Regions from separate parts of the Homo sapiens genome. Here region 1 is linked to region 2. The links come from fine-mapping of genetic effects on gene expression. A gene starts in region 2. The other region holds a variant in brackets. All regions are shown on one strand. Distances are from middle to middle. Region 1 overlaps DBNDD1 (dysbindin domain containing 1). Region 2 holds the start of DEF8 (differentially expressed in FDCP 8 homolog).

Region 1 (4,249 bases), 54 kb before region 2:
CTGGCCACACTTCCACCCGCCAGGGTCTTCCTCCCCATCTTTCCATCCTTCCTGCTGAGCTTCCACAGAGCTCGTTTGCAAACAGGGGGATTAAAGCATCACTGCGCATTCGAAGGCCTGGCCACAGTCTCTTCCTTTCCAATAGCAGAGTGAACGAGGTGCCTGCTGAGGGGTTGTGAGCTGAGCTGCCCTGGGCTCCGTGCCCGGACCATTCTCCAGCTGCAGCAGCCTGAGGGCTCTGCTGTGCTCACTTGGGTCACATGTGGGGGATGAGTGACCTGGATTTCCAGTCCCAAAGTCACACAACAGAAGGAATCATTAAAGAAGTGAAAGTCCCGCCCCACGTGCACGTAAAGGTAGCCCAGGCTGGGGGAGGGAGTCACAGAAGTCCCACCCCACGTGCATGTAAAGGTAGCCCAGGCTGGGGGAGGGAGTCACAGAAGTCCCGCCCCACGTTGCACGTAAAGGTGGCCTGGGCCAGGGGAGGGAGTTACAGAAGTCCCACCCCACGTGCACGTAAAGGTAGCCCGGGCCAGGGGAGGGAGTCACAGAAGTCCCGCCCCACGTGCACGTAAAGGTGGCCCGGGCCAGGGGAGGGAGTCACAGAAGTCCCGCCCCACGTGCACGTAAAGGTGGCCCGGGCCAGGGGAGGGAGTCACAGAAGTCCCGCCCCACGTGCACGTAAAGGTGGCCCGGGCCAGGGGAGGGAGTCACAGAAGTCCCACCCCACGTGCACGTAAAGGTGGCCCGGGCCAGGGGAGGGAGTCACAGAAGTCCCACCCCACGTGCACGTAAAGGTGGCCCGGGCCAGGGGAGGGAGTCACAGAAGTCCCGCCCCACGTGCACGTAAAGGTGGCCCGGGCCAGGGGAGGGAGTCACAGAAGTCCCGCCCCACGTGCACGTAAAGGTGGCCCGGGCCGGGGGAGGGAGTCAAAGAAGTCCCGCCCCACGTGCACGTAAAGGTGGCCCGGGCCAGGGGAGGGAGTCACAGAAGTCCCGCCCCACGTGCACGTAAAGGTGGCCCGGGCCGGGGGAGGGAGTCACAGAAGTCCCGCCCCACGTGCACGTAAAGGTGGCCCGGGCCGGGGGAGGGAATCACAGAAGTCCCGCCCCACGTGCACGTAAAGGTGGCCCGGGCCGGGGGAGGGAGTCACAGAAGTCCCGCCCCACGTGCACGTAAAGGTGGCCCGGGCCAGGGGAGGGAGTCACAGAAGTCCCGCCCCACGTGCACGTAAAGGTGGCCCGGGCCAGGGGAGGGAGTCACAGAAGTCCCGCCCCACGTGCACGTAAAGGTGGCCCGGGCCGGGGGAGGGAGTCATAGAAGTCCCGCCCCACGTGCACGTAAAGGTAGCCCGGGCCAGGGGAGGGAGTCACAGAAGTCCCACCCCACGTGCATATAAAGGTAGCCCGGGCCGGGGGAGGGAATCACAGAAGTCCCACCGCACGTGCATGTAAAGGTAGCCCGGGCCGGGGGAGGGAGTCATAGAAGTCCCACCCCACGTGCATATAAAGGTAGCCCGGGCCGGGGGAGGGAATCACAGAAGTCCCACCGCACGTGCATGTAAAGGTAGCCCGGGCCGGGGGAAGGAGTCATAGAAGTCCCACCCCACGTGCACGTAAAGGTGGCCCGGGCCAGGGGAGGGAGTCACAGAAGTCCCACCCCACGTGCATGTAAAGGTAGCCCAGGCCGGGGGAGGGAGTCACAGAATCCCACCCCACGTGGTGGTAAAGGTGGCCCAGGCCAGGGGAGGGATTCACTCCCCAGCAACGGAGTCGCTCTCAACACACTCCTGTCCCAGAGGCCACTGGCACTGGTCCTGGGGAGGTACCAGATGAGGCCAAAACTCCTGCCCACTGTCATTACTCATGAAATGGGGTGGCCATGGAGCCTGACCAGGGCTGACATGCCTTCTGCCAGGCCCACGGGTCTCTGTGTGTTTCCGTGCTGGGCTCTGAGGGGAGAAGCCTGGACCTCCCCTACATGAAAATTCTCAGCAAGGTGTCCTATGACCATGGACCCAGAAACGGCCTCAGTCAGTGATGTATCTTCTGGGAAGGGTGCACAGCTACTGGCAGGTACACGCATTCCACCCCATTCCACCTTCCCTTCTGGCAGAGGGAGGGAGGCAGGCAGGCTGAGAAATACAGGGGCTGAAGGCTCGTGTCCCTGCAGGGTGCACAGACC[G/A]CTACAGCACAGACAGCAGTGCCCGCAGGTGTCACTCTGCTGGGCCGATGGTGCTTCTCAGCAAAGGTGCAGCTGAGCCACCATCGACAGGCTGATGAGGCAAACTGCAGGTCATGCTCAGGACAGCTGGGAAAAGACCACGGAAAATAGTGTGTCTGATTCAGGGGGTGAGATGGCTCCAGAGTTACATAAGGACCGGCTTGTAAAGGATACGTGCGGGAAGGCTGCGGGAAAGGCGCCTGACAGCCCTGAAAAGTTGAGGGTGAAGGCAGGCGCCGAGAACACAGGTCTGGAGGGAACAGCCCAGTGGGGGAGGCACAAGGATCCCACGCCCAGATCATCATGAAGGACCCCAGGCACGTGCAGCCGTCTGGGAGGTGACAAGAGGGACACCCAGGCTCTCCCGGGGTGTTGGAGGGAACCACGGTGGAGCGAGGGCCATGACTTTCCACAGCCCGTGACCACCCTGCATCCCGGAGGCCACCGATGCTGCCATGTCACAGGGCCTGCTGGGGTTGAGGAAGCACCCCCACCTCCATCTGAGGGACCTAAGACCAGGCCCCAACCGGACCCCAAGGGGCTCAGCTACTCTGGGTCTGGTGGAGGCCATGATGAAGGTTGAGTGCTGGAGAGTTTTTGAGTCCAATGATATGCATTTTATAAACAGCAAAAGTTGAAAGTGTTCACCCCCAGTTGGAAATTATATTTTTGAGGCTCCGAGGCCAACATAACAAGCGATTTATAAAATATACTACAAAGCCCCAGTGTCTGATCTGGCCTAGGTCGAGAGAGAGGCTGAGAACAAACAGTGCCCGGGGCAGCAAGCAGGGCCTCCTCCTCCCGCTGTTCACCCAGGACATCTGCAAACGGGCATCTTCCCAGGTCCCATCCCAGCTGACCCACAAGCAGGGCCTCCTCCTCCGGCCGCTCACCCAGGACATATGCAAATGGGCGTCTTCCCCAGGTCTCATCCCAGGTGACCTAGACACGCATCCACCCACCCCAAGGCAGTGGTTGAGGCTGACACTGCCCTGCTGTTGCTGACCCCAGCGAGTCCTGGAGGCAGGTCGTGTGCTGCAGAAAGCACACGGGGCATCCTCATCGAGTCCCACACACCCCAGACAAGAAAAAGCAAACCCTCCCTCAGTACAAGGCGCCAAAGGGCCTGAAGCTCAGAGCCCAGAAGGGGCCTTCCTAATAAAAATTAGGAGCTACCCAACCCCAGGAAAAGTGTTCACGAACAGGTACCAGGGCCAGGGGCAGCCACGTGCTGGGGCTTCAGGACCACAGTCTCTCCACAAACACCCCTGAGCCGGCTGGGGCCCTGCAGAGCTTCCCGCTCCAAGACTCCAACAAAAAGGGGTCACAGGAACAGAACTGACGATCCAGACACATCCCGCAGTGAAAGCACCTCCAGCCAAGGACAGGGGCCAGGTTTTCTAAGCAACTCAATTCCCTCACACTCAGCAGTGCTGCCACAGAGCCAAGGCGCAGGCAGGGGTGGCGGGGGGTGCCCTGATGGGGAACCCAGGTGTGAGGCCCCACAGCTCCACCTCCTCCCTCAGCCATGCACCTGTGGGTGGTGTGGGCTTTTTCCTTTCTAAGGACAGAACAGCAGATCGGCTTCTACCGATCCAAACAGCTGCTTTAGAACCCTGACTTCCCCTTGATGCCTGGCTGACGTTCTCCTCTTCTGAATTCTACCAAACGGTGAGGGTTTCTGTGCTGGACCCAGGCTCCTCCGAGTGTCTTTATGACCATATCAACGCTCCTCCACGGAGGCCCCAGGAAGGCCTGGTGTCTCCAAGGTGTCCCACGCAAGCCCCTCTCGAAGCTACAGTCGTGCCTTCCTCAGCACCACAGGGGCCAGAGCCCTGGGGCCTCTCCCGTCTAAGCCTGGACCCGACTGTCCTCCAGCGGGAGGGCCCAGGGACTCAGGGTACCCCCTCTGCCCACTCCCACTCCTACTCCCTGCATGTGGGCTCAGAGCACCCTCATCTAAAACACCCATTCACAGTTGTCACGTTTTAATTTGTTTTGGGTGAGATTCCGCAGCTGCTTTGC
Region 2 (4,503 bases):
CAGAGTGAGACTCCATCTCAGAAAAAAAAAAAAGAAAAGATTCTGACTGATGATCCCAATAGTTTCATGGTAACAAGACAGACACGTCCAGCTTGAATCCCAACTCTGCTAGCTCCTAGCTGTGTGACCTTGGGTAAGTGGATAAACGTTTCTCTGCCTCCATTCTCCCATGTCTCAAATGGGGATTACAATAGTACCATACAGGGTTATTGTCAAGATTAAAGTAGTTAATACTAAGTTCAGAGAACACTGGCCGGCACATAGTAAGCACCCAATAAATATTGATTATAATTTATCATTATTACTTTTTTTTGAGACAGGGTGTTGCTCTGTCACCCGAGCTGGAGTGCAGTGGTGCGATCACAGCTCACTGCAGCCTCAAACTCCTGGGCTGAAGGGGTCCTCCCATATTAGCCTCCCAAGTAGCTGGAACTCCAGTGTGTGCCACCACACTCAGCTAATTTTTTTTAACTTTTTGTAGAGACGGAGTCTCACTCTGATGCCCAGGCTGGTCTCAAACTCCTGGCTTCAAGCAACCCTCCTGCCTCTGCCTCCCAAATTGCTGGGATTATAGGTGTGAGCTACCATGCCTGGCCTATTACTGTTATTTTTAAGAATCATGGCCGGTGTGTGGTGGCTCACTTTGGGAGGCTGAGGCGGGTGGATCATTTGAGGTCAAGAGTTCAAACCAGCCTGACCAACATGGTGAAACCCCGTCTGTACTAAAAACACAAACAAATTAGCTGGGCATGGTGGTGCATGCCTGTAATCCAGCTACTTGGGAAGCTGAGGCAGGAGAATCACTTGAACACGGGAGGTGGAGGTTGCAGTGAGCCGAGATTGTGCCACTGCACTCCAGCCTAGGCAACACAGCAAAACTCCATCTCAAAAAAAAAAAAAAAATCAGCCCTGATTTAGACTCTGGTTCTCCATTGTCTTGCCTATAAATCAGGGGGAACACCTACTTTCTGGGGTGGATGGAAGGGCTAAGGACTTGTTTATGATGTCAGTGAAGCCAGGAGCCCAGAGCTGCTCAGAACAGACTGGCACTGTCATCACATATGGTGACCAGCCCAGGAAAAAGGTGCAGGAGCTACGCCTGGGGAAGCCGCTGGAAACCTCCTGGTGTTTAAAACATGGCCAGAGGAGCGTCAAGGAAGGCACGCTGGCAGGGACACCTCCGTTCTGCCCAGCAGCTGTACTCTAGGCTACCAGCTCTCCTCCGGGCTGTGAAAAAAGGCATCTTTTATTTGCCTATTTACTGACAGTCAGTGCCAGCCCCAGGCCTGGCGCACGGGCAGGGGATGAATGAGGGGAGGCCGCTGGCCTCGCAGCCTTAGCTTCTGCTCACACAGACCTGGGGATGCCGGCCACAGTGGCCGACTCTGAGCAGAACGCCAGCCTGCCCCTCTCACCAGGCTCACCCCACCAGTTCTGCACCCAGATGTGGGACTTGGCCTCAGAAAGGAGCGGGCAGGAAGTGGAAGAGTGAAAGCAAGAGGTCTGGCCACCCCCTGCCCCTCCTCTAGAGCCCACTGCTCTCATCGGGGAGGACCCCACAACTTAGCAATGAAAGGAAGCCGAAGAAAGCCGGCGGGGTTCCGGGGCACGGAGGGACCCTGGGCCGAAGCTCAGGACACGCGGGATGCACGGACCTGGCCTCCCGCGTCCTGCCCGCGGCGTGACCACCAGGAAGCGGTGTCATCACTGCAGCTGCCACCCCGAGAACCTGAGAAGTCACCCCGGTGTGCGGAGTCAACAGCGTCCTGTCTGCCCATACCTGCATCGCCTGCCAGGGCCCAGGGGCTCGCAGGGACAGGATGGCCATTCCTCTAGGGCTGCTGGCCACGGAAGCCTGGCCGTGGGTTCGGCACCTGCTGCAGGGAGAAGCCACCCCAGCACTGTGCCTCCCCACCCACCACACCCGCGGGAGCTCGCCCGGTCTCCCGGGCTCCTCGGGGGCAGGTCTCTCCCACCCACCCGTTCCACCGAGGGGGAAACTGAGGCTCGGAGCAGCCCAGGGCGGGGGCACGGCCACGCGGGTCCCCTGAGCCGCCCGGGTGCTCCGCACGCAGCTGGTGTGGACGCCGGAGCAGCGGCGGCGTCCCCGGGGTGGGGCGGCCGAGGTCTCGAGGCCCCTGCGCCGGGCGGGCCGCCCTCCCAGCCCCGTCCCCGCCGGCCCCGACCTCGCCGGCCCCGTCCCCGCCGGCCCCGTCCCCGCCGGCCCCGTCCCTCCCAGCCCCGACCCCGCCGACCCCGTCCCCGCCGGCCCCGTCCCTCCCAGCCCCGACCCCGCCGGCCCCGTCCCCGCCGGCCCCGTCCCCGCCGGCCCCGTCCCTCCCAGCCCCGTCCCCGCCGACCCCGTCCCCGCCGGCCCCGTCCCTCCCAGCCCCGACCCCGCCGACCCCGTCCCCGCCGGCCCCGTCCCCGCCGGCCCCGTCCCCGCCGGCCCCGACCCCGCCGGCCCCGCGCCGCTCACCTGACCGCCGCCTCGCATCTGTCTCCCGGCTGCGCTGGATCCGCCCGGCCGCCCCGCTACGCTGGATCCAGCCCCGCGCTCGCTGCTGCCGCCTCCGGCGCGGAGGTTCATGGCACGCGGGTCGCGAGTCTGCGAGCCCCGGAGTCCGCCCGGCTGTTCCGCGGGCCTGACCTGGGGCTGCGCGTCCTGGGTTTCCTCTCATCGCAGAAGGCCTGTGGCTGAAACCCAAACCCCAACACGTTTAAAAAAAATGGGCGGGCGCGGCGGCTCACGCCTGTCATCCCAGCGCTTCGGGAGGCCGAGGCGGGCGGATCGCGAGGTCAGGAGATCGAGACCATCCTGGCTAACACGGTGAAACCCCGTCTCCACTAAAAATACGAAAAATTAGCCGGGCGCGGTGGCGGGCGCCTGTAGTCCCAGCTACGCGGGAGGCTGAGGCGGGAGAACGGCGTGAACCCGGGAGGCGGAGCTCGGAGTGAGCCGAGATCGCACCACTGCACTCCAGCCTGGGCGACAGAGCGAGACTCCGTCTCAAAAAAACAAAAAGGGTGGCTTTTAACACTTTTTTTAACCTCAGTGGTTGAGGAGGAAAAAGGAACAGAGAACCACCGTGTGCAGGTGCCGCCAGCCACCTGCAGGGCCCCGCGGGGGCTTCACGGCTGCAGAGGGAGGGACCCGGCGCGGCTCTACCCTCTTTACACAGGAGGACGCGCCACACTGCGCTCAGGAGGCTGCTCCATGCAGGCGCCGGGCAGCGGGACTTCGGAGGCAGCTGGTGTCCGCGGGCCCTGGCGTTATTCCTGCTTTCCCGTTGTTTACACACAGAGCAGGCCTGCTGCTCCCCGCCCCCGTATCCCTACTCTTAGGCTTCTCGCGTGGAAGATTCAGCTGCCCCCGCTTGTGCCCGCAGGGAGGAGCTGAGGACAGATGAAGGCCAGCATATGCGCCTGGTGCGCTTGCCCTGAGCTCGCGGGCTCAGTTTACCCTCCCTGCAGAAAGGTGTGGTTTTGGCTGCCTCTGGGGCTTGGTCCACTTTGTTCAGTGGGCATGGTGATGACAGTGCCAGTAACTGGAGGCCTCCCAAGTGGGAGCCACACACCACCTTGCAGAGACCAGCTCGGTCGGGGAGACCCTAACCCGGCAGCGCTAGAGGAACTAAAGACACACACACACAGAGATAGAGAGGTGTGGAGTGGGAAATCAGGGGTCTCACAGCCTTCAGAGCTGACAGCCTCGAACAGAGACTTACCCACGTATTTATTAACGGCAAACCAGTGATAAGCATTGTTTCTGTAGATATTAGACTAACTAAAAGTATCCCTTATGGGAAACGAAGGGATGGGCCAAGATAAAGGGATGGGTCTGGCTAGTTACCTGCAGCAGGAGCATGTCCTTAAGGCACAGATCGCTCACGCTATTGTTTGTGGCTTAAGAATGCCTTTAAGCAGTTTTCCGCCCTGGGTGGGCCAGGTGTTCCTTGCCCTCATTCTGGTAAACCCACGACCTTCCAGCGTGGGCGTCATGGCCGTCATGAACATGTCACAGTGCTGCAGAGATTTTGTTTATGGCCAGTTTTGGGACCAGTTTATGGCCAGGTTTTGGGGGGCGTGTTGCCAACACCATCTCATTTAACCCTACGGAAGCCTGGGGGCCAGCAGTCACCTACAGGACAGGCAACTCCATCGGCCCCCCCAAGGCCACATCGCTCAGAAAGGGTGCAGTGAGATTCCACCCCAGCTTAGGGTGGCTTCGGACGCCGTGTCCCTCCATGCACTCAGACCTGGAGGGAGACTGCCCTGAGCCGCCGCTCTATCTGCTGCTTCAAGGTCCCCAGTCCTAGAGATTCCACGTCCACCTGGCCTCTCTCCCAGCTCCTCCTTCTGGAAAGGCCTTCCCCATCTCAGCTCCCACCTGGGCCCCACAGTACATCCTCAGCCTGGCAGTGAGAGGGACCCTGGGAAGAAGTCGGCCCCCACCTTCACCTCCTGGCTCCTCTCCCCAACAGGCCAGGCCCACCCCCACCC

Evidence for each region. PIP is the estimated chance that this variant, and not a neighbour inherited with it, causes the effect. A credible set is the group of variants that fine-mapping cannot tell apart.
Region 1: its variant is the best candidate, but not a certain one, in a credible set for the expression of DEF8 in esophagus muscle (GTEx, PIP 0.79).

Annotation. Positions count from the first base shown.
Region 1 is chr16:90,000,736-90,004,984 of GRCh38, reverse strand. DBNDD1 (dysbindin domain containing 1) reads left to right here. Exons shown (of 4, transcript NM_001042610.3): 4 at 1-114. It also overlaps the pseudogene AFG3L1P. Among named protein-coding and RNA genes, the nearest start is that of DBNDD1, 17 kb to the left of the region's middle. The variant G/A (reference allele first, on the strand shown) is at 2,186.
Region 2 is chr16:89,946,791-89,951,293 of GRCh38, reverse strand. DEF8 (differentially expressed in FDCP 8 homolog) reads right to left here and starts at 2,539. Exons shown (of 13, transcript NM_001242818.2): 1 at 2,480-2,539; 2 at 1,781-1,877. RefSeq lists a silencer at 2,410-2,509 and an enhancer at 3,190-3,529.